3 separate regions of the Homo sapiens genome follow, and regions 2 and 3 are each linked to region 1. The links come from fine-mapping of genetic effects on gene expression. A gene starts in region 1. Each other region holds a variant in brackets. All regions are shown on one strand. Distances are between the middles of the regions. Region 1 holds the start of ZNF175 (zinc finger protein 175). Region 2 has its middle 16 kb from the start of SIGLEC6. Region 3 has its middle 7.4 kb from the start of LINC01530.

Region 1 (8,180 bases):
GAAAAAAGCTTATATTGAACATGTGTCCTAAAACGCTAAACTTGAAGATGTTCTGAACACGCAAGTTGACCAACATCAATGCAAATGAGAGAAACGTTTGTGCATCTGCACTGCTGTCACAAAGACTTAGACAATTTCATGTTTTAAACTTGTTTTGTTTTGAGACAGGGTCTCACTCTATTGCCCAGGCTGGAGTGTAGTGTCATGATTGCAGCTCACTGCAACCTTGACCGCCTCAAGCTCAGGTGATCCTCCCACGTCAACGTACTCAGTAGCTGGGACTACAGGTGCATGCCACCACACCTGGCTAATTTTTGTATTTTTGTAGAGTCTCGCCATGTTGCCCAGGCTGGTCTCCAACTCCTGGGCTCAAGTGATCCGCCCGCCTCGGCCTCCCAAAGTGCATGAGCCACTGTGCCCCACCTAAACTTGTATGTTTCAATTTTTCTTTTAAGAACGACTTTTAAATATTTGGGGTATTTACAATTTTGAAAATGATTTATATGTGCAATTTATTTTGTGTTAATGTTCCCTTCTTTTAATACTTTCTATTATCAAATGTTTCTAGCAGGTTGAGATGATTTTAACAGGTTACTGAAATATATAATCTCACAATATATTGGTTCAGGATAATAACACACATATTTATTATACTTTTTTTAAAAAACAGAACATCTCTGTAAATTTGGTTATAAACCCATCACAGAACAATGGTACACTGTTTACTATTATAGTCACATACTATTTAAAGACTTGTAAATAAAGCATCAAGAGATACACAGAATAATTTAGGATTTCAGGAAATCTTGACTATACCAAGAATTCTGATTTCTTGTTACCAAATCCTGACTATTTCTATCTGTGGGCAATCTGGAAACACTGTTTTCCAGCATTTTTTGTTCACCTTTTTAAACAGGAAAAAGTGTTTAAAAGCCTCTTCACATGGTCCTTAAAAGCCTCTTCTCACTCTACCTCCCTGTGACTATTTAAATTACAAAGGAAGGAGATTTTGCCGCACCTTATGAGAACAGAGGAAAAACGGGCCAAACCCCATGGACCAAGCAAGGAATTTGGTGGGGGGGACCACTTGAAATTTTTCAAAGACCCAGTGGTGGATGAAGGAGCAGAACCAGTGCTTAGCAGGAAAGAGTCAGCTTTTCCATCCTATGACTGGGGCTTCTGATCAGACCAGGGACTACAGTTTCTTCTTTCTTGACCCAAGGCCAACCCTCTACTATCCTCTTTTATCAGCCAGTTCATGGTTTCCTCTAGAACACAGATAGCCTATGAATGTGGAAACATCAGCCTCTGTGGTCCTCGCTTGACAGGAGGCTCAAGACTGACTCAGGAGCAGGGAGCCCAGACCTGCTGCATCCTGTGTCTGCCCTCACGTTCTGGAGAACTATCCCCAGGGCTGCCCCTGTTTACCTCGCAAGATCCATCCTGCTTCTCTGGACCCAGGACCTGAGGCTTCTGGGATAAATTCACATCAGCAGGCATCTCCACTCTGGGCTTCTACTCTCGGTCTCTCTTGCTGACAACTCCACTTTTCCCAGGAGCCAGAAGCTGGATAGGTGTTTGGATTTTCCAACCAGGGACACGGCGGAGAGTCGTACTGGGCTATGAAGAGAGATCCTGCAGCCTCAATGATGTGGCCTGACCTGGGGGTTCTGCAGAAGCCTTGGAAAAGCAATGAGTACATGGTCACTCATTCAACATTCACTCCACAAATATTTCCTGAGGGCACTGAGGTGAAGTCACTGTGTCAGACATTGGAGTAGACAAAGTTCAGAAAGCCCAACTCTAGTTATTAGTCAGGGTTAAAAATAAAGACTGAGTCTGGACTAAATGGTGAATTCATTGCAGCTTTGCCACATTTTCACTGTGAGAATATGAAAATATTACTTTAGTTGTAGTTTCCAAAATGAAAATGCAGGTATTTATCACAGATGTTGGGAAACTTAACCAAGATGAAGCTTGTCAAGTCCTCAGTGCCTGCCTGGCACGTGATAAATATGAATTAAAAAAAGAAAGTTGTCAATTTAATTGTCAGCTAAATATCATGGGCATTATCATACCCATTTTGAGGATGAGGATAATGAGGCTGTGTGCTGTTACATAATTTGCCTGAAGGTTACTCAGTCTGTAAATGGAAAAACAGGGAATCAGCCCCACATCTGCCTTGTTCTAAACTGTACACTGTCTCCACTATCTCATGTACCCATACGTGGCCAGCTTCCAGAAACACCATTTCCTCTTTCTGTTGCCTTCATAGAACTCAGGCCGGGAGGTGGCTCTGTCTGGTGTACCTATTCTGAGCTTCTGGACTTTTCAGTCCCCGTCCATAATACACCACACACAGACCAGCCTCTTCTGACTAGAGCTAAAACTTAAAATCACTGTCCCAATCCCCATCTTGACACAGAAAATTTGCAGACATGCATCAGGGCCTCCAGTTACCATTTCTTGCCTGTCCACAATAAGTTGCCCCCACCGCACCTGAATGCAATCACTGACAGGACTGACTTTCAGAAATCCCCAATGAGTGTACTACAGGGCTGCCAGAAAGTTCCAAAATGCCTCCCAGTCACTGACATGGCACAGGCTTCTGAAATCTTTACTGCCCTGATAGCCAAGAAATGTTTCCCAGCGAGCACAATTTTCTGGTTTCCATAAAACGACAAATAATCCCCAACATAGGGGTCCAAATGAAATGCCCCAATAGGAAACCATCATCGATGTGCTCAACTGTCAATTACTGATCCTTACCATGTCCAAGGGACCCAAGAAGAGGCCAACACTGACCCACCCACCAATCCCTGAAGGACCCCAACACTCACTGCCTAGAAAGCAATGCATTCACCCTCACAAATCCCCATCATTGACCCCCTACGCCTCCAGTCAACTGGCTGCCATAGGCTACCCCTGGCAACCCCACTCTACTGATTCCTATAGGTTGCCCATCACTGGTCCCCTGAGAGTGTTACAGTGTGATCCTCAAAGTCCTCCAACCTCTGAAGCTCTTGGCTGCCAATCAATCACTGACTCCCCTAGTCCCACGGACAGTGAATCCCTTCCCTGAACGTCCTCCAGCACCATCCGCAAAGGCGCTCTTAAGATGCACGTTCACTGTCCTCAAGTTAGCAAGTTTCGTGGACCAATATAAAATCCGATATTAAAGTACACTTGGAATTTAAGTCACAAAAATACTACAAGCAGAAAATAAGCAAGAAAAGAGGGAAAATTAACAGGCTAATTATCCAACTAAAATTAGCAAACGCCACTTACCCCACAGCACCCATCACCCACCCCAGAAACCCCTCATCGCTCAGCCAAAACAAGCCCGTCACTCACCTCACAGCCTCGTCTTCAGCCGAGAAATCCCTTTATCACGCACCCCCACCCCCAACAAGCCCCTCATCACTCCCCCAAAGCCAGCCGCCCCTTCCTGACCCTACAGAACCCCCACTGCTAATATTCCCAATCACTTCAGCGTCCAGTAAGCGACATAGGCTTAGATCCACTTAACAACAGAAGCTAAATGGTCGCTCTAGGCCACTTCCGGTTTGGGTTACATTCCCGTTAGGATTTCCGTAGGCGCTGTTGAACCGCGCGCATGCCCACTAACACTTTTGAAGCTACGCTCCGCCAACAGTTATCATGGCGTATAACGGCGTACCTTTATTCCGCGGTTCATTCAACTTCAGAAACTTGGTAGGGAGGACGGCATGGCCGCACCCATACGGATTATGATATTGGAGGCCGCCATCGTCAAAGGGCTTTTATTCCGTACAGCCAAGGACAAATGGAATGTCACAGAGTAAAAGTCTTGGGTCCTACATTGGCAGGGGACCTATTCAATACTTGTGTATATATATTTCTAGGAGAAACTGACATGTATTCTGAAAAATACTTTTTCTCTATATTTTTCCCTCTGATTTAAAGACTTTTTTTTCCTGAATTGCTGAACAACTCACTGTCTTTAATAGCACTTTTGAAAATGTTATCTTTCTGAGAAATTGTATCTTTGTTATCCTTACACCATTGCTCTCTATACCTGGATGAACCTATTGATGAAGTAACCTACCAAGCGACCACCTGAAGAGAGAATTTAGGGCTCTTGGGACACTTCATTTAAAGAGAGGCGAATGAAAAAAATATAATCAAGTTAAAGGAAAAAAACACAATTACTGAGATCAATGTCAGCCAGCCCAACTGGGCAGAATTTTCAGGAAGAGGTTGTTCAATCAAATAAACAAAAATATATTCTAGAAGGTGAGTAATAGCAATCATAAAATTAAAAAAATGGCTGATTATGGGAAATAGGAGGCAGGGCTGAGTGAGGATCTGAAGGTGAAGATCTGAAATGATCCTTCTTTTTTAAAAAATAGTAATTTAAATATATTGCTTTCGTAGTTTGTGCCATTTTGTAGTTACCGATTTTACATTCTGTGTTCACAGCTTCTGCCACCCCATCTCTGCACTTAAAGCCACCATATTACTTTTAATTACTTCATACCTCATTTTTAGTCCATTTGAATAATAAAATAAGACTGCTTAGCCAATGAAGCATTTTTTTGAACATGGTTTCCCAGGAATAGTTGAGTTTTCACATTAGTATCTGAACCTAACTTTGTTACATGAAGCATGAAACCTGCTTTTATTTTAAAACATCAATTATATATTTACTGTAAGCAAATAGTGTAAAATCAATAAAAACACTTATCTTTATTATGTGAGAAAGTGTGACATTTTGTTTGAGTTACTAAGAAATTCCCCGGACTTAGAACTTTTGAATTTTCTCCACTTATAAATCTGAGACTATTCTTTACTGTGTCATAGGATTTACCCTACGGCTTTGGTACATTTTATTTAAAAAAAGGAAAATGCAGAGAGTGAAAATTGAGATAGAAGTAGGAGGCTTTAAGTACAACAGCCCCGCATGTGTATGTTCAGGGCAAGTTAAGGCGTCCCTCCACTGGGACATCTGTATATCTGTAGGATGAGGGGTAACTGCGCCCTCATACTCTTAGTGGGGCAGGCATACCCTAAGGTGACACCTACTGAGTCACACCTTGTACAAATCCATCCCTTTGAGTGCAAACGGAACCTGAGATTTGCTTCTTACCAACAGAATATGGCAAAAGTTATGGGACTTATCTCTATTATTAGATTATGATATTAAAATCTATGGGAACTTGAACATCATCTGCAAATACTGGAAATATTTCTCAGTTTCTAATTTTTACATTTCTTGCTTATTTTTCTGGTTTTACCTTGTTGGCTATAACCTCTTTAATAATGTCAAGTAACAGTGGTGACAGTGGGCATCCTTGTCTTGTTTCTGATTCAAATGAGAATGCTCCTGAATTTTCCTTATTTAGGGTGAGAGTTGGTGTTTTAATAGTTATCTTTTATCATATGCATGGTAATTCTAGTTGCTCCACTGCCTTATCAATACTTAGTATTGTTAGTCTTTTTAATTTAATATGTTTTAGTGAGTATCTCATAGTGGTATCTCATAGTAATTTTAATTTGCATTTCCCAGATCAAGCATTTTTTCAAGTGCCGAATGGCCACTCATTTATCCTCTTTGCTGAAGCAACTCTTCAAATCTTCCACCCATTTTTCATTGTGTTTTAAAATTATTGTGTTGTGAAAATTTTTTATATATTCTAAAAATAAGTCTTTTAGAGATATACATATCACAAACATTTTTCTTCCAGTCTGTGGTTGCTTTTTTATTTCATCTATTCTAATCTTTAGAAGTTTAAAAATTTGATTATGACATTCTAGAAGAGTTTTTTAAGATTGGAGTTGGCTATTCCTCAAGAAGACAGACAAAACTTTCTGACTATGAATCTTCATATATCTTGTGTAGATGAAAGTCAAAAAAGAAAAATAAAAAGAAAGAGAATTCTGGCTCTTGAAACTTAAATAAAGAGCTTCAAAATTAAAAGCCTTCAAAAAATAAAGACAAAAAGTCTTGTGCAGATGAAAGTCAAAAAAGAAAAAGAAAAACAATTCTGGTTCTTGAAACTTAAATAAAAGTGCTTCAAAATTAAAGTGCTTCAAAAAATAAAGACAACTGTTTGCAACTTATGAGGACTTCAGAATTTCAAATGCTTTGCTTTAAACTATGCCAAGAACTCTCATCCTGGCCAACTTCAAACCAGTCTACTGCCTTCATGACTCAACGCCTTATTAAATAATGATCTCAACAAGATGCCTGCCCTCAAAATATCTGATAGCAATTGTGCCTGTTTTTTTTTTCCTGGAAATCAAAGAAAGTAAACAACCAAGAGCATTAAAAGAAACTTTACCCAAAAAATATAGTATTGAACAGACCATTCTATATACAGAAATGAAACTGTTTATCACCTTCATTTATAGCTAAGGATAAATGCTCGCCCACTGACTAAAATGACCCTTTTCTTTCATATATCTCATTTTAAGCAAACCTATTCTAAGACCTCTGGTAAAAAGAGACTTCATCACTCTGAGATATAGGATTCAAAAGCAAAATACAAATTAACAGTTGTGATTCGCATCACAAGAAATTGTATGCTAAGGAAGTGTGCTGAAGTTTTCCCAAAGTTCAATTACTGATCTGTTCAAATGGATCCAATATTAAGATTCTAAGAACATCATTCTGATTCATTCATATTCTGATATTGCACCTTCCACAGAAGTAAAGGAAGAGGAGCCCTTGGAAATTGCATGTGGCCTGAAGACAAACTTTGGCCAAGCCTATGAAAATGAGATTCTTAGTCTGCTTAGGGTTTATGTGGGAAAATGGCTGAGGGCTTTGGCTGGAGGAATGAAGGTCACTGACAGGTTTTAATCAGGAGTGTGATCTCCTTTATTCTTGTGTCTAGAATGACTATCCAAACTGCCAATTAACAAAACTGGAAAAATTAATAATTCCTGAAACGAGAGAGGCAATGGTTACTCTCATTCAAGATTGGGGAAATGGACACTGTTTCAGCCGTTTTCTCAAACTCCTGGCCTCAAGCAATCCTTCCATCTTGGCCTCCCAAAGTGCTAGGATTACAGGTGTGAGCCACTGTGCATGGCCTGTTACAGCCATTTTTGAAAGCAGTTTGTAAATACTCATCTTTGTCTTGCAAACATATTACTTTCTCTTGAAAAGGTGATCCAGTTTCTGCTAAAAATATCTTCTACGGAAATAATCAGAAATTATATTTTTACACGAGTCACATTTGTAGCTTGAAGTCAGTCATGATAGAAGTGTTTACACTGCAGAAATTGGCAAATACTATCCATCAAGTCTTGATTTATCATTTTATTGATTGTCTACGCTTGATATAGTGATGAATAAAATATTAATAATGCAACTTAAAAGATGTTAATATCTGCAGTCATTACACTGTAAATAGCACAAAAATTCAGAAATATTCTTCTAGTGTAGATATTCCAAAACTTATCTGATTAAACAAAGAGTTTACTCCTGTCATTGACAGAAGAATAAAATCCCACCATACATCTCATTATTTCTGTTTTATCTTACTCCTTAATGTAAATGAAAATATCAACCAACATTCATAACTACACAGTGTACTGTTCATCAATTGCCATTATAAGTTAGCTCAAGTTGCAAAAGTTCAGAAAAATCAGTGAAAACATTCTGTGAGAATCAGTTGATTATGTAGAATTTACAATAAAAAGTATAGTACATTTTATTATTATTTAAAAGTTACGTGCTGCAGGGAGATGAAGGCCCGTGGGACGTGACCAACTCAGCATTCCACTGGAGGCTATATGATCAAACAGCAAACTGTTTATCATGAATGCAGGATGTGGGCAAACTCACAATTACTCCCACTGCCAGAAGGTTTGCTGAGGGCCATTGCTTCCTGGCGCCGAGCTCCTTGAAGTTATCTACTGGGACATCTAGAGAATGCAGTCTTGCAAGCCTACTCTGGACCAAGCAGCTGACCTCTTCTTCCACCCCACTTCTCGCTATCTCTTTTGCCTAATAAATACAGAGGGCTGTGTAAAGTTCAGGGCCCTTGTCCACTAGAGGCAAGGTGCCCCCTGACCCCTTCTTCCAAACATGCTCTTTTGTCTCTTGTCTTTTATTCCTACGTTCACCTCCCTTTGTTCAGTTACCCTAGGTCCATGAGAGTTACATAGTGGCACCCCGAACAGCGACAAAT
Region 2 (8,180 bases), 23 kb after region 1:
GTATGTATATGTGCAGGCAGGGCCCACAGGAAGTGAGAGTAGGAGGAGAGACACAGGACAAGTTCTTTCTGCCTCACCCTGAACCCAAAGAGCTCACCTAAGTCTGGAGCCAGAGCTGGAGCCACGGCTGGAGCTGAGGACAGAGAGGGTTCCATTTTAGGAGAGTCTCAGTCTCACTCTCCTATGACCCTATGCAAGGGGCTCCAAGAAAAGCAACTGGGGAAAACAGACCCAGAAACTCCACATCTCTCTTGAGGGAAGTGGGGGTTGGTCTTCAGGTGGTGAGGAAGAGGAGGAAGGAAGGTCCCACCCTGCTGTGGTCAGGGGAGAGGAGAGCTCAGCTTTCATTTCCCCTGTAGTGGTCTGAGGGCAAAAGTAGCGTTTGCTGAAGGCAGAAATTTGGGAGAGGAACAATACATTCAATCCAGGAAGAGAATCTATCACTCCAAGGTTGTGCCCACTTCCAAGTGGGAGAGGCTAATCAGTGAAGACAGCCTAGTTCTCTCACTGTTTGGGGTGCTACTTGTAGACTGCCCAATCCTGTCACTGTTCGGGGCACCGCTTGTAAACTGCACGGACCTTGGGGGACTGAACAAAGGGGGACGAACGCGGGAACAAAGACAAGAGAACAAAAGAATGTGTTTGGAAGAAGGGGTCAGGGGGCACCTTGCCTCTAGTGGACAAGGGCCCTGAACTTTACACAGCCCTCCATATTTATTAGGCAAAAGAGATAGCGAGAAGGAGGGGTGGAAGAAGAGGTCAGCTGCTCCATCTAGAGTAGGCTTGCAAGACTGTATTCCTTGAACAGTAGGCCCTAGATGTCCCAGAAGATAACTTCAAGGAGCCGGCGCCAGGGAGTGACCGCCCTCAGCAAACCTTCTGGCGGCAGGTGCAGTCGTGAGTTTGCTCACATCCTGTATTCATGATAAACAGTTTGCTGTTTGATCATATAGCCTCCAGTGGAATGCTGAGTTGGTCACGATCTCTTTGGCCTTTTCGGCTCCCAACAAATCAGATGGTGTCAGCGGAATGTAGAACATCCTTTTCCGCTGCTGCCATTGCCCCAGCTGTGAGGGCAGCAGAGGCCTGAGGAAGAGGTTGCTCAGTCGGGCTGCAGCCACAGCTTGCTTCCCGGCAGCAGTCCCATGAGAATCAGCCGGCTGTGCTCTCACCTTTCAGTCAGTGACGGTGAAGAGGGAACCTTTGCATTCTGTGCCCAGCTTCATTCTCCAGTCCAATCCATGGGTTTTCTGGACTGACTTTAATCCAGTCCACACCCACCTTTGGATCCCAGAGGGGGCCCACAGACACCATAATCCCCCTGTGGCCACAAATAAGCCCTGTCAAAACTTGGAAGAAGGCTGGGCGCAGTGGCTCATGCCTGTAATCCTAGCACTTTGGGAGGCCGAGGTGGGTGGATCACCTGAGGTCAGCAGTTCTAGACCAGCCTGGCCAACATGGTGAAACTCCATCTCTACTAAAAATACAAAAATTAGCCAGGTGTAGAGGCAGGTGCCTGTAATCCCAGCTACTAGGGAGGCCAAGGCAGGAGAATCGCTTGAACCTGGGAGGTGGAAGTTGCAGTGAGCCGAGATTGTGCCACTGCACCCCAGCCTGGGTGACAGAGCGAGACTCCATCTCAAAAAAAAAAAAAAAAAAAAAAAAAAGAAAGAAAGAAAAGAAAAGAAAAGAAAAACCTGGAAGAGAGGACCTGGGGCAAAGCTAACCTCCTCAGAGACCCAAGGACCCACAGTTGCTCTCAGAGCATCAGATGTTCCAGATGCAGGAAAGTAGGAACACATCTCTAGGTCAGAGATATCACATGAAATATAGCTCCCAATGAATGACACTGCCTCTGACTGTGACCAGTAGAGAAGGGTCCCCAGGAGAGAGCCCCAGAGGCAGGAACATACCTGTTTCTTATCTGGAGAGTAAGGGAGAGGTGCAGGATCCTGGGGCTGAGGGCAGGGGAGGCCAACCCCAGGCTGACACTCTGGGGTCTCCCCTCTGAGTTTCTCCTCCTCTGTAGCTTGTATCAGATACCCATAATTTATATCCCTTTAAGCTTAAAGCCAGCCATCTTGGAGTCTAAACAGCACCATGCCAGGGGCTTGTGAAGGAAGATGCACCTCTCTTCCTGGGGTTCTGAAGCCCCCGCTTCAAGTCCTCAGTGTACCCCTGTATCCTAGGGTCCAAGATTGTGGCATCAGGCCTCCATGCCAGGTGACCTTCCTAGGAAGCGGTAGATCCATGGGTAGAACTATCTGAGGAGTCCAGCACATGGTTAAAAACCTAGGTGTGGCTTTTCAGGTTCGATCACAGGCAGTTGCAAAGGCTTTTCCTGGCAGGCCTCACTGGGAGACTCCACCCTCTTCACACTCGGTTGTGGTCAAGGACCCCACCTTTCTGGCCAGTCATGCGCTATGCATATTTGCATTTCTATCCCAGTTACATTTATTTCTAGGCCTCGTTTTCTGAGGCCTTGGACAGAGGTCTTCCACAGATGCCTCTGCTGAGACCACCTTGCGGGGGGCAGGAGGAGGAACCTTGAAGACACGTTTCCCCACTCTGACTCAGTACTCAGTTCTTTTCCACTCCTAGCCCTTCTCATGCCCCCACCCTTCCCAGGGTCTGTGGAACTGCCTGAGCCTTTTGTTCAGGGCTCCCTCCTCAGTGAGAGGACCCCGACCCCTATGTCTGTGTTGATCCATGAGCCACCTGACCCTCCAGCAGTGTGCACTGTTCCAGAGGGGTGGCAGGAAATGAAACAAGAAGAGTTGGTGCATTCTCTGGTTTAGACTCTTGCCTCTATCACTGCTGTCTGTGATTAAAGGCTTGATTCATTCTTTCAGTTTGGTCTATTGTTGCTTTAATCGGTGATCCTGCCACCTTGAAGCACAGCTCTCTCTCACAGCCCAGCTGAGCTCCTCATACCACCAGGCTCAGCATCCCCCTTGGATGTTGGCCAGGACACCTGGGTGGCTGAGGGCTGCCAGGATGGACAGGAAGGGTTCAGGGCCTGAGAGATTCAACGCCTGGTCAGGAGCTCGACTGGAGAAGGGAGGAGAAATCACAGCAGTCCCCACCTCAGCAGCTTTCCATGGATTTAGCCAAAGAGGCAGAGCAGCCATACTCCTCCGCATGGTGGTAGAAAATGGTGGCTTTCTCCATTCCAGATGCCAGATGCCAGATTCTCCACAGAATCTGGCTATTGGCCCCACCCAAGGAAATGGTACAGGTAGGAAAAAAACCTTCCCTCTGGGGTCGTGATGAAGGTGGGCTTGCTGCTTGCTCAGGACAGAAGTGGAGGCCCAGAGCTCCGACAGGAGAGGACTGAAGACATCCCAATGAGTCCCACTCCCCCTCACCCCGCTGCCCCCTGCAGTCTGCCCCTCCCACCCATCCCTGATAAAATTCTCACCACTGCTGTCACCAATGTGCAGCTCCTTCTCCTCCTACCTCCCTGGCCAGGCCATCTCAGCCATTCCCCAGCCCACAATTAAGCTTAAGATTGTGTGTTCCCCACCCCTCCCACTGGGGCCTTCTGTTTCCCCTTGGTGAACACATCCACCTCCCCTGAGTACAACCCCA[G/A]TAGGCTTTGTGAAACTCCCTACCCCTCCCTCTCCAGCCCAGACCTGCCCCCAAGCCCTGACGGTTCATCTCACCAGCTCTCTGCCATGACACCCCCAAGTCCCTGCTGCTTGAGTCGGGGCTCTGGGAGCCACTGCAGATGCTCCCCTCTCTCACGCATTATAAGAATTAAAGAAAGAAGAAGGAAACACAAAAAACAGCTGAACAGTTAAAGATAGGTTTATTTTGGAGACTAAACCTGAGAAGGGCTTCTGGCTGAGTTAGGTCAGAGGCACTCTCTTTTACCGACTAAGAGTTTTTAAGGATTCAGGGCGGTACAGCTTATCACAGGCTCAGAATGTTTCTGTGTCTCTTTGTCTTGCTTACCTGGGAGGGAGAGTTTTGTGTCTAATCCCATACGTCTTCCTGCAGCTGCAGGCATACCCCCTGAGTCTGCTTTTAGCTTCCCTATCTTAGTGTACCTAAAGGGGAAGGAATGTGTTTATTAGGGCCCACTGTTTTACTGGGGCCCATTGTATGAGTGTGAAGTTTGGTGGTTACCCAGGAGACTTTTCCCCCTCAGACATCCCTTTATGCCTGAGCTGTCTTATCTGTGTTTCACTGTCTGCTCTTTCCGGCTGCTTGTTGTCAGAAGATAAGTGATTTCCTTGAAATGCACGAGGCTAGAAAGGGAGCTGGAACTTAAAGTGGCAGTGTTAGTCTGAGATGATGGTGCTCCTGCTCTGTCATGCACCACCACCAACCCTGCAAAGTCCACTTTCTGAAAATGTCTCAAATTGCTTCTTTCTTCAATCACCAAGGTGACTTGTTTTGAGAGTCCCCAGCTAAACTGGGGCTTCAGTGCCAGAGTGGCTGATGACCCTGCCCTAATGGGAAATGAAGGAGAGCTGGACGTGGTGTCTACAGCGTACATTTCACAGGATCTTTCTCTTACGTGGAGGATGATCTAATGCCTGGTTGTCTGACCCATGACCATGGGTGCCTCACATGGGCAACTTGTTTAAGCTACAGATGCCCCTGTGGTTCTTTTCTGACCCGTGTTCACTTTATGCCTGCCTGACCATTTCCCTGGCACTGGAAGTCCACCCTTGTACCCTCCCAGGTGTCCTGGGGGGAAACCCAGCCTAGAGTAGCCACAGTTCTTCAGGTGGAGGGTGCAAGTTCAATGCACCATCAAGCTAGGAAATATGTTTAAAGATTTTTACTTATAAACTCCAGGCAATGAGGGTGTAATGAGTGGAGGGGGGGCAGTAATTAGTGGGGGGACCCAGTCCATCCCTGGGTCACCCGAGTCAGGAATGAGGAGTCAGGCAGAGTGAGAAAGAAAAGCACACGGCAACTGGCAGTACCTCTCAGGGAATCGGGTGTGGTTACTTTAAGTTCATGGGTAAATATCTGTGGTTCCCTTAAAGGTAGCAGCAGAAAAAGCAGGAAGGCAAGTCTGCTTTTACAGGAGAGATGCCGCTGGTTCTTTTATTTACCTATTGTTTTTTGTAGAGATGAGGTCCCTCTATATTACCCAGGCTGTCTTGAACTCCACTCAAGAGATCGACCCGCTCAGCCTCCCAAAGTGCTGGGGTTGGTTGAAGGGCATGAGTCACTGTGCCTGTCTAAGTTCTTATCTCTGGCCACCAGCTTGAGCCATTTGAGTGTGGTTTAGAACTGGAAGTTGTTAAGGATGACTGAGCCCCGCTTCTGGTATTTCAAAAGGACACTGAGGTCGCATGCAATTCTAAGAATTCACTACATTACTCTCTCCTTGAAGGCATGGTTCTTCCTTACCGAACAATCGCAACAGCTTTCTCTCTAGGCCCTTAGCCTGCAGTCTGGCCTTGGAGGGATCTATCTGACATGTATATATTATGGTGACCCTTTTCTGCATGAGAACCTTCCATGACTCCCTATTGTCCTTGGAGAAAGCTCAAGCCCATCATTGTTTCTGTCTTCCAGGACTACTTGAGTTAGTTGAGCGTCAGGAATGATGCAAATCTGTCTCTTTTACTTTTGTTTGAGAATGAATGCACACATGGAATGAATGAAGTGTTGCTGCTCTTACCTCACGTGGACCCTTTCATGCCTCTGGTGCTGATCTCTAGGAGACTGACCTCTGTGGGGGTCCCACGCCTGTGATTCATGGGGAACTGGCCAGGTGGCACCTGTTTCTCCAGTCACTTGTGCACAAGTCCAGGAGGCAGGACTTGGGGACTCCGGTCCTTCGTTGCTGCCTTACTTAGGGCAAGCCTCTTGCCTTGTCTGAGCAACATGCAGAAATGGAACTCAGTTTTCTTAAAGAGTTAATTACAATGGACTCATTGTGTGTCTGAAGTTCCCTTTACTGGGCTGGTCACCTCTTGTTCTCACCACAAGCTTCCTCTGCTGTCCCACACCTGTAGCTTTCCCTTCCCTTTCAGAGAGGTCTGCCCCTGGGTATGAGGCAGAGATGCCACTGCTGCTGACCCTGCATAGGCTGCGGGGACAGCAGCCCCCACTCAGGAGGCTCCAGAGCCCAAGGCTTAGTCTTTTCCTCACTCCAGGGCTCCTGGCTTAGGTTCTGGAACAGCTGCAGTTCCAGGAACCTGTGATGGTGCAGAAGGGCCTGTGTGTCCTCAGGCTGCAGAAATTTCCCTACTCCTGGACTTACTATGGAACCCTCCACCTGTGCTGGTTCCAGAAAGGGGTGGATGTAGACCACAATCCTCCAGTGACCAGGACAAATGCTTCATGGCAGGACCCAGGACCAATTCCTCCTGCCCAGGGACCTCAAGACCAGCAACTTCTCCCTGAGCATCAGAGGCACACACGGGGACTCTTTTTTTCTTTTCTTTTCTTTTTTTTTTTTTTTTTTTGGGATGGAGTCTCACTTTATCACCAGGCTGGAGTGCAGTTGCACAATCTTGGCTCACTGCAACCTCCGTCTCCCGGGTTCAAGAGATTCTCCTGCCTCAGCCTCCCAAGCAGCTGGGATTATAGGCACCCGTCACCATGCCCTGCTAATTTTTGTATTTTTAGTAGCGACAGGGTTTCACCATGTTGGCCAGGATAGTCTCAATCTCTTGACCTCATGATCTGCCCGCCTCGGCCTCCCAAAGTGCTGGGATTGCAGGGATAAGCCACTGCGCCCAGCCCACACGGACTCTTCAGAAAGGAGAAACCATTCAGGAAACATTCATATCTTGTAGGATGCTCTCTTGGAATATGACAAGTATGTTAAAAGCCCAGACACCAGAAATAAAGCAATGAAGGTTCTGCTCCTTCTAGAGGTGGTGGCATGCCGACAGCGTGAAAGGACCCTGGGGTGGGCTGATAACACTCAGAGGGTCCCCAAGCTCCTCTCTCTCCTCACCAGCCCTGACCCACAAGCCCAACATTTTCATCCCAGGGATTCTGGGGTACCAGTCACACCAGGAACCTTACCTGCTATGTGTTCTGGGCCTGTGAATGGGAGGAGCCCCCTCCACATTCTTCTGAATGGGGGTCTCCCTGTTGCATCTGGGCTCCAGGACCTTCGGCTCCTCAGTGCTCACGATCACCCCATGGCCCCAGGACCACAGCACCAACCTCACCTGGCAGGTGAAGTTCCCTGGAGCTGGTGTGACTACAGAGAGAACCATCCAGCTCAGTGTCTCCTGTGAGTGCTGGGGCCAGGATGCCTGGGTTCCTGAGGGTGTAGGGGGTAGAGGAGGGTCAGGGCAGGGGACACTTTGTGGCTATGTCCTGGAGGCCTGGCTGAGCAGGGGAACTAGAAGGACACAAGCTCTGTCTTTTGACATTCCTGTGGCTTCTGGGGTAGGGGAGGAGTACCTACTTTTACCTCATCTCCACCCCAAAGAAAGGGAAATTCTCTCTTCCTGTTCTAGATGCTCTAAGGAACCCAAGGATTGGTGTCTCTCTAGGAGACGGCACAGGTAGGACAGAGCCCCCTCCCTGGGGCTGAGGGAGCAGGGCCTGCAGCTTGGGGCAGGGCTGGGCTACTGCTTCTTCCTGGACTCAACTTCGTAACCTGAGACCCTCTTGTAAGTGAAACAGAGGTCTTCCCCATCGTTAGTCTCCAAGGCCACCTGAGCACCTGTCCCCATCCTCCCCTCACTCCCCTTGGCCTCTTCCACACACAACTCCCACTGGCCCCATAACAAGGGCAGGGTGCCATTCACATAGCAGATCCAGGCTTTGAGTCCCCACCTGCTGAATACTCCTCTTCCCTCATCTTCTTATTCTCCCCAGTAGTCCTGATCTAAGTTCTTCTGAACAGATGATATAGTCACATGGGTGAGAATTCAGAGTGCACAGTAGAATCTACCCTCAGACACCCGTCCCCTTCCCCAGAATCCGCCAGTGTCTGTCCTGGCTGCGCTGCGCCTTGATTTGCTTGCCCGAAGGATCTCAGTGATGGTTTAACATCAGTAGTGACATCAGAGTGACATTACTCTCCTCCAGTACTGTGGGTGATTCCACTGTGTGGATGGACTCCAATTTCGTGGCATCAAAAATGTGGACTCTGATTTTGTGCCTAATGGAATATCATGGCACTAATTTTATCTTACCAACAGTAACACTGCAATAAATAATCTTGTATCTACTGCCACAAGTGT
Region 3 (8,180 bases), 31 kb before region 1:
CAGGGAGAGGGAGGACCTGGGGAACAGAGGAGGGTATGGTACCAGGAGTGGCCTGTGGATCAGCCCCGAGCTGGGTCCTCTGCTTTCAGCTCAGGGTCCTTCATGTCTTCCACAACCCAATCCTTTGGATGAAACAGGTTGCTGATTCCAAGCATAGACTGAAAAGCTAAGTAGAACATTTGAATCTCATGGGGATAGAATGATAAAAGTTATGGCTGAGGGCTTGCCAAGGAAAAAGGGCCATGGTAAACACTGTAGTGCTGTGGTTGGGACCTTGTAGAGTAAGGATGAGTTGGAACTAGATGATACCTCATAAGGATTAAAGCCAGACCAAATTTCCTCAATATCTGATCAAATTGAAGTGGTCGGCTTGCCACAAGCAACAGTAAATATGCCCTGAAGAAGGATAATGTGACCCAGAGCTTAAAATTATCTCCATAGGTTTTCATCACTCCACCAGACAAGAGTGTGGCCAGGGAAACAGCAGCCAAGAGTTTTATGAGAATAGAGCGCTCACTAGAGGACCTAGAACTTAATGCAAATGTGGTAGAGCTGGAAAGTGATGCTTTGGAGAAGGCAGGATGATCATGAGAGCATCATTAAGCAGTTCCATTGAAGAACAGGTGTGGGTAGGCAAGACAGAGCGTGCAGGGATATATGAAAAGCCAAGTATGCCCATTGTTACCATGGGACCCCCAAAGGGGGATCTCAGAAAGTTCTATGGAAAACTGTTGCCTGCGTAGCTACTACCTCTGTAAGCACACAGCCAAGCAGGTGGTGGTAGATTTGAGGCTGGTGTTGGTCATCCCCAGGGCTGGCAATTGGGAAGATGGCCTGCATGTGGAGCAAAGCAGGGAAAACTGCCTAATACATTATGCTATTTTATAGTTGTTTACAGCAGGAGGGTAAGTCTGGTACTAGTTACTCCATTCTGCCTGGTTATTATTATTAATCACATTCACAATTTTAATGGTTCTTTTAAAAATGTAATCCAATACAATGGTGAAACTCTCCATTTTAGCATCTGTTTTTACGTGATGACAATTAAAGTCCATACCTAAAACTCATATCTAGAACACCTGTAAATACATCTGTGCTTGATGCCCAGCCTCTTGGTATTCAACAATTTTGTCATATCTCCTGGCATGCTTGTCAACTTTTTAATTTTTAGTTGAATTTCTAGTATTTTGTTTGAAAAACTGCAGAGATTTTTTTGAGCTCTGACTGAAATTTTCCTCCTCTGGATTCTAGTACAGTCTAGAACAGCACTGTGCGATGGAACTTTCATGACGATGGAGGCATTGTGTCTGCATTGTTCAATATGGTGGTAAGGAGCACTTGAAAGGTGTTTAGGGTGACTGAGGACTTAATCCTTAATTTTATTTTAATTAATTTAAAGATAAATCGGCTCATGTGGCTAGGGCTACCCTATTTTTGCTTTCTGGCAAGTGGAATAGGGACAGATCCCTTAAGCCAGCCCCAGGCTGAGTGAGTTTGAAGATGGGTTTTGGTCTTTTTGTGGGCAGGTCTACTCCCAGTTGACCCATATTTTTTGGCGGGGGGGACGGAGTCTCACTCTGTTTCCCAGGCTGGAGTGCAGTGGCGCGATCTCAGCTCACTGCAAGCTCCACCTCCTGAGTTCACGCCATTCTCCTGCCTCAGCCTCCTGAGTAGCTAGGACTACAGGCGCCCGCCACCACGCCCGGCTAATTTTTTGTATTTTTAGTAGAGACAGGGTTTCACCGTGTTAGCCAGGATGGTCTCGATCTCCTGACCGCGTGATCCGCCCACCTTGGCCTCCCAAAGTGCTGGGATTACAGGTGTGAGCCACTGCGCCCGGCCGACCCTTACTTTTAATCTGTAACCCTTCTTGAGTTCTAATGGAAGGTTTGGGGTGTTTACTGGGCCTCTCCTTATCAGACCCGGAACATCAAATTTGGCTTACCCAGTTCCATCAGACTGCTGAGAGGAGAGTTTAAACATGTTGGGCTCACCTCAGTGATCTTCCCTTCCTTCCAGGGTTTTGGTCCCTCAAGTCCTGTCTACCTTGGTAGCACCAGGCTCCATGATCTATTTGTATTTATTTAATTTTATTAATTTTTTTTTTTGTAGAGACAGGGTCTCTGTATGTTGCCCAGGCTGGCCTCAAACTCCTGAGCTCAAGAGATCCTCTCACGTTGGCACCCCAAAGTGCTGGGATTATAGGCATGAGCCACTGCACCTGGCCACCATGATTTCTGTCTCCAGCCCCAGCCATAACACTGCTGAAAGCTCAACTCAGGTTCCCATCTTCTTATCCTCTGCTTTCTGCTTGCTTCCTTAGCCTTTTGGCCCCTCCAGGAGAATGAGCTTCCCTTTTCTCTGCGATCCTGGCCAACTTGGTAGCTCTCCAATGTCATCAGATTGTTTTTGTGTGTGTATGTGTGTACTGTTTTTCCATTTGGTCTCAGTCTTAGTGTGGAAGTGTTGTTCTGACATTAGCTTCTCTATCATGGCTAGAAACCTCGCTTGCTTTGTTTGATCTCTGCCCCAAAGTCACCTTCTCAAAGAGGCCCTGGCCTTTCAAACTAAAATAACAGCTCTTTACACCTTTTCCCTTTATGTTATTTCTTATCTACAGCACTAATTATCTGACATTATATAGGTGTCTTTCCCACAAGGCCCTAAGTTCCATGAAAGACTCTGTCTTTTTTCTCTCACCAGTGCCTAGAACAGCCCCTGCACACATTAGGTGCTCAATAAGTGTTTCTTGGATGAATAATGCTGTTATTGTCCGATGGGGAGAGAGGTCTGGTCTTTGCCCTTAATGATCAGTCTAATTAGGGAGAGCATAACCCAAAACGGTGGGAAGGCCACAGAGTCAGGACAGGACCTATGGGTGGGGGACCTATGGGGTGGGGTTTGGGAGATCCCTACGCCCTGGACTGGGTGGGAGGGGAGAATCAGGAAGGTCCTCTTTCTGTAAGGACCCTGGAGGGTTTGAGCAGGCAGATGGGAAAGGGAAGGCATTCCTGACTAGGGAGGCAAGCCAGCAAAGCTCGGAGGTGGGACTGAGAACACCAAATCTCCCACAGGTTAGGCAGGAAGTTTCTGGGCCTCACTCCTTTCAGGACCAGCTGAGCAGCAATCCTGAAACTAAAAGCTCCCTGGTGGCCAAACCTTAATATGAACAACCAAGTTACTGAATCCTCCCAAGAGTACCCTGATGTCGGGGGAGTGGAGAGGGAGGGTTGCTTCTATTTTCAGAGGAGGAAATAGAAGGTCAGAAGAGTTAAGCGGCGATTCAGGCTCGCGCAGCTCTGCCTTCAGAGCTTGAGAGGTCTGCAAAGCCCACCAGCCCCTCCTTACCTATGACAAGAGACGGCAAGGGAGATTCAGGTGGTGATGGATGAGGACAGGATAGCATGGGGGAAAGGCAATCCCAAAATCTCTGACAGCTCTGGAGCCAGGCCAACCTGGTGGGAGCCCCCAGGTCAGTTACTGCGGCTCAGGCTACTGCCAGTGAGGCCGTGGAGGAGACGAAATGAGGGTGCAGCACGCGCTGCACACGAAGCGCTGGAAGGGAGGCATCGTGACGGGGGCTGTGAATGGCGTGTGTCCATCAAGTCACGTCACTCCGCTTACCCCACTGCGGGCAAACAGGAAACATCAGGAATCTGGTGCTCAAGGAGGGTCAGGACCATGCTGAGCGCACCCAGAACCAGCAGAGAACTGGGCAGGAGGTCCCCAACCAACCCCCACTCGCTCAGGAATCACAAGGTGTTCAGCCCCCTCCTCCCTGAGATCCAGGAGTCCACGACCCCAGGCCCTCCTTCCTCAGCCACAGATGCCTGGGGTCCCCAGCCCCACTTCCTCTAGCCCTAGTCCTGG[T/C]CCTCTCCTCTCTCAGACCTAGGATGGCCCCCCAGCCCCCTCCTCCCTCAGAGCCAGAAGGCCAGCTCGAGACCCTTCCTCCCTGAGACCCCGAAGTCTGGGGTCCCAGCTTCAGGGTTTCAGGTCACTGGGCCCCCATCCCCCTCCCACCTCACATGGAAGGCCAGGTAAGGTAACGGGTTTATTCACAGTGTCATTTACAGGCAGACCTCACCCGGGCGCGTCGGATCCCGGCGGGAGGCCCGGAGTCGCTAGAAGGTGGGGACGGTCTCGGAAGTGGGGGCCCGGGCCGGATCCCCGGGCGTCCCCGGCGTCGCCTCCTCGTCCAGCCCCCGGCGGCCCTTGCCGATGGCCAGGCGGGGCCGACCGCGGTTCAGGCCGTCCAGGAGGGAGCAGGCCTGGCAGAGCGCGCGGCTGGCCAGCGCCCCACAGCGGGGGCAGGCGCCGGGGCGCGGGGGCCGCGCGGCCGAGGCCAGCGCCAGGCGTTCGGCCGAGTGCACCAGGTCCAGCACCGCCGACGGCCGCGGCGCCTCCAGGCGCTTGAGCAGGTCCCGGGCGCTCCTCTCTTCTGAGAAGTAGTCGAGGCGGCGGAAGTGCCCGTACGGCACCACCTCCTGCGAGGCGAACTGCAGCGGGCGGCAGCGCGGAAGGGCACCCCCCTAGCCCGGAGAGCCCAGGCCCCCGCCCCGGGCCAGCCGCCCCGCAGGAAGTTCATGAGCACGGTGTCCACCATGTCGTCGGCGTTGTGACCTGGTGGGGAGAGACGGGAGAGGGTGAGGTGCGGCGCGGAGGGCGCTGCTGGCCAGGGAGCCCCTCGAGGAACCAAGGGTCCACCAGGACCCAGAGAGAGACTGGGAGGGGAGACCCACGGAGACCCAGGGCACAGTGGGGCCGCCAGGTCCCAGAGAGAGAGACGGCGACGGGGAGAGCGAGCCATGGAGACCTCCGAACAATGTGCAACAGCCAGGATCCAGAGACAGAGAGGGGGAGACAGAGCCATGGAGACCCCTGGGACACTGTGGGTAACCAGGACCCAGAGAGAGACGGGGAAGGGAGACCCAGGGCACAGCGGGGCCGCCAGGACCCAAGACAGAGAGGGGCAGGGGGAGGGGGAACAGATACTGATGGGGAAACCGGACCATGGAGACTCCCGGGCACCATGGAGCAACCAGAAGGAGACTGGAGGTGGACAGAAAACCTGAAGGGAACACAAACAAGCTCCTTGGGGGGAGCCCTCATTTGCCATCCACCTACTGTATACCAAGCCCTTCGCTAGCTCTCTTTCCACATAGCGGGTAAAAGTGCTTTAAGCTGCAAACACCATTTCAGCCTCAGTTAAAACTGTATTTCAGACTACACAGGAGAAAAAAGGGCCATCTAATGGGGATTCTCAAGAGAGCTGTAGACACAAGTGTCTCTGGGAATGCAGATCACGCGATTTACAAAGACCAGAAAGAAAGTTAATGAATACATACACACCAGTCGCCATACAATTTAAATGGAAACTACGTTTATTCTGCATTTTGTCATCTTATACTTGAGTCTGTATATTAAAATGCTGTTCTTCTTCGGGCTTCTCAAGTTGGTCATATTTCCCCTCCTCAAGGCCTTTGCCTCTCTGTGACCTCAGCTCAGAACACCCCCCGCCCAAACTCCAACTCATCCTTCACCTGGTTATTCACTGAGCCTTCGGGTCTCAGTTCACTCAGGAAACGTTTCCTTAATCCCCACCTTTTCCCCGCCACTAGTACCCCCTGATATAAATTCACACATTCTGTGTAATTTTCCGTAGTAGCACTCGTCAGGTTATAATTACATTCGTGAGAATCAGGCAGGAGCAGAGACTGTCTTGTGCTCTTGTGGATCATCATAACAGCAAACATTTACATCATGTTTACTGTTTTTCAGCCTCTAGTCTGAGTGCTTTATATATAACTCATCTAATTCCCAACTCAAGGACCCAGATATTATTAACATCCCCATTTTACAAAAGATGAAACGGAGGTTAAGTAATTTGCTCTAGGCTACACAGCTTGTATCTGGTATTTAGTCAATGGACGATGATTACTTATTGAAGTAATCATTGAGAGAAAATAAGAGTTGTCAGAGAGAAACCTATAAAGAAAAGGAGTTAAGAGACACAGTAGCATTTCAGACTGTGTGACTTTCGATGAGAGACACCTCTTCACATCTCTCTTTGTGAAGGGAGATACAAAGTCATTTCCCTCTACTAAAAATAGAAAAATTACCCAGGTGTGGTGGCAGGCACCTGTAAGCCCAGCTACTCAGGAGACTGAGGTAGGAGAATCGTTTTAACCTGGCACACGGAGGTTGCAGTGAGCCTAGACTGCACCACTGCGCTCCATCCTAGGTGACATAGTGAGACTCCATCTCAAAATAATAATAATAATAATAATAATGATAGCAGAGTATTCCAGCCTTAGCTCCTACAAGGTAGCCCCTCTACCTGCCAATGTGTGTACCAATGTGTCCAGAATTGGTTCCTTCCCCTGGGTTCTTGGTCTCGCTGACTTCAGGAGTGAAACCGCAGACCTTCGCAGTGTTACAGCTCATAAAGGTAGTGCGGACCCAAAGAGCGAGCTGCAGCAAGATTTATTGTGAAGAGCAAAAGCACAAATCTCCCACAGCGTGGGAGGGGACCCAAATGAGTTGCCGCTGCAGGCTCGGTGGCTAGCTTTTATTCCCTTATTTGGCCCCACCCACATTCTGCTGATTGGTCCATTTTACAGAGCACTGATTGGTTCATTTTACAGAGCGCTGATTGGTCCATTTTACAGAGTGCTTATTGGTCTGGTTTTACAGAGTGCTGATTGGTCTGGTTTTATAGAGTGCTGATTGGTGCGTTTACAAACCTTTAGCTAGACACAGAGCACTGATTGGTGTGTTTACAATCTTTTAGCTGGACGGAAAAGTTCTCCAAGTGCCCACCTGACCCAGAAGCCCAGCCAGCTTCATCTCTCACTAAGATGATGTCAGAGACCCAGAGGCTTGAAAAACCTGCCTTACTCCATCGTAGGGAGCCACACGTACTACCCACATGAGCCTTCAGTAGGCTCCGGCCCTAAATAGGCACATGCGTATTTCCCCAGCTCCTTACTGGGATCCTCCCGCTAAGCCACGCCCGATGCCCTTGTCTACAGCCATGAGCTGCAGTAAGATGCCCAGGCCCGGTGCCAGCGTGCGCAGCACGTGTGCCAGCACCGTGGAATCCTTGCCGCCCGAGGTGCCCAGGGCCACCACTGCGCCTGGCGGCAGCAGGTAGCCCACAAGCACCATGTGCTGCACCTCCGCCTCGAAGGCGGTGCAGAAGCAGGAACCGCACAGCACTTGGCCCGAGCATGGACGGCGGAGGGAGGCGCATGCCACGTGGCAGGAGGCACATGACGGGGCGGGCATTGCAAGAAGGGACAGCTTCTCCTAGACCGGGAGAGGAGGCGGGTTACACATGTTTCATTGCCTTTGAGGAGTTCCCTAGATAGTGCCCCTGCCTGGAATAGACCAGGGGCAGCTGTGGCTGCTGCTCTTATATACGTGGGTTATAAATGGGTTCTGGTGTAAGAAGGCCACTGCCTCCAGGAAGGCTTCCTGGACTGCACCCATTATGCACCAAGAAGAGAAGGAACTTAAGCTGATTTCAGGGGGAAAAAGAGGGAGCAACAAGCAGGTTATACCCAGAATTAGATCGTGTCCTGTCCAAAGGGGTGAGGGCGTCTATTAAGGACCAGTTGTAACAACTTCCAGGAGGCCACCCATGTTACAGCCCTGATCAGAAGGTAGATATTACTGACTATTCAGAGAGATTGGGAGGGGAGGGGTCAGAGACTCTTAAGGACAGAGGGAGGTCATGCTCTGTTCAAGGGAAGGGGGCTATACAGAAAAGACCAATTGGATTTCACTTTCAGGGGTCGGGGTGGGCATTCTGTCTCCAGGAATGGGTCCTGATTGTGTCTTACAAGGACATACACAGGCAGGCTAGATCAACCTCTAGGGAGACTAGCAGGGGTTGCACCTATTTTTGAGGTGAGGGTGTGTAGGCCTCCAGTTCTGAACTTAACCCCGCTCTGGTATCAGAATCCACCTAAGCTTCTGTGGCCCCCGAAAGACACAGAGAGGTTGGGAGGGGAGGGGTCAGTGATGGGGTTGGCTCATCCTTGGCCCCCAACTGTTCTCTTTCCTACCTCATCCCTCCCCACCCAGCCAAGACTCTAACTGTCCCATCGAACCTCCTTCGTCCCACTTGTCTGGTGAACCCATAAAAACTCCCCAGGCTTAGTCCCCCTCCTCAAGCC

Evidence for each region. PIP is the estimated chance that this variant, and not a neighbour inherited with it, causes the effect.
Region 2: its variant is the best candidate, but not a certain one, in a credible set for the expression of ZNF175 in whole blood (TOPMed, PIP 0.88).
Region 3: its variant is the best candidate, but not a certain one, in a credible set for the expression of ZNF175 in thyroid (GTEx, PIP 0.61).

Annotation. Positions count from the first base shown.
Region 1 is chr19:51,566,650-51,574,829 of GRCh38, reverse strand. It overlaps ZNF175 (zinc finger protein 175), which reads right to left and starts at 3,547. Exons shown (of 5, transcript NM_007147.4): 1 at 3,355-3,547; 2 at 1,429-1,680. The coding sequence starts at 1,500. RefSeq lists an enhancer at 3,826-3,885.
Region 2 is chr19:51,543,939-51,552,118 of GRCh38, reverse strand. It overlaps the pseudogene SIGLEC28P. Among named protein-coding and RNA genes, the nearest start is that of SIGLEC6, 16 kb to the right of the region's middle. RefSeq lists an enhancer at 6,058-6,107. The variant G/A (reference allele first, on the strand shown) is at 3,592.
Region 3 is chr19:51,597,651-51,605,830 of GRCh38, reverse strand. It overlaps the pseudogene LOC339352. Among named protein-coding and RNA genes, the nearest start is that of LINC01530, 7.4 kb to the right of the region's middle. The variant T/C (reference allele first, on the strand shown) is at 3,871.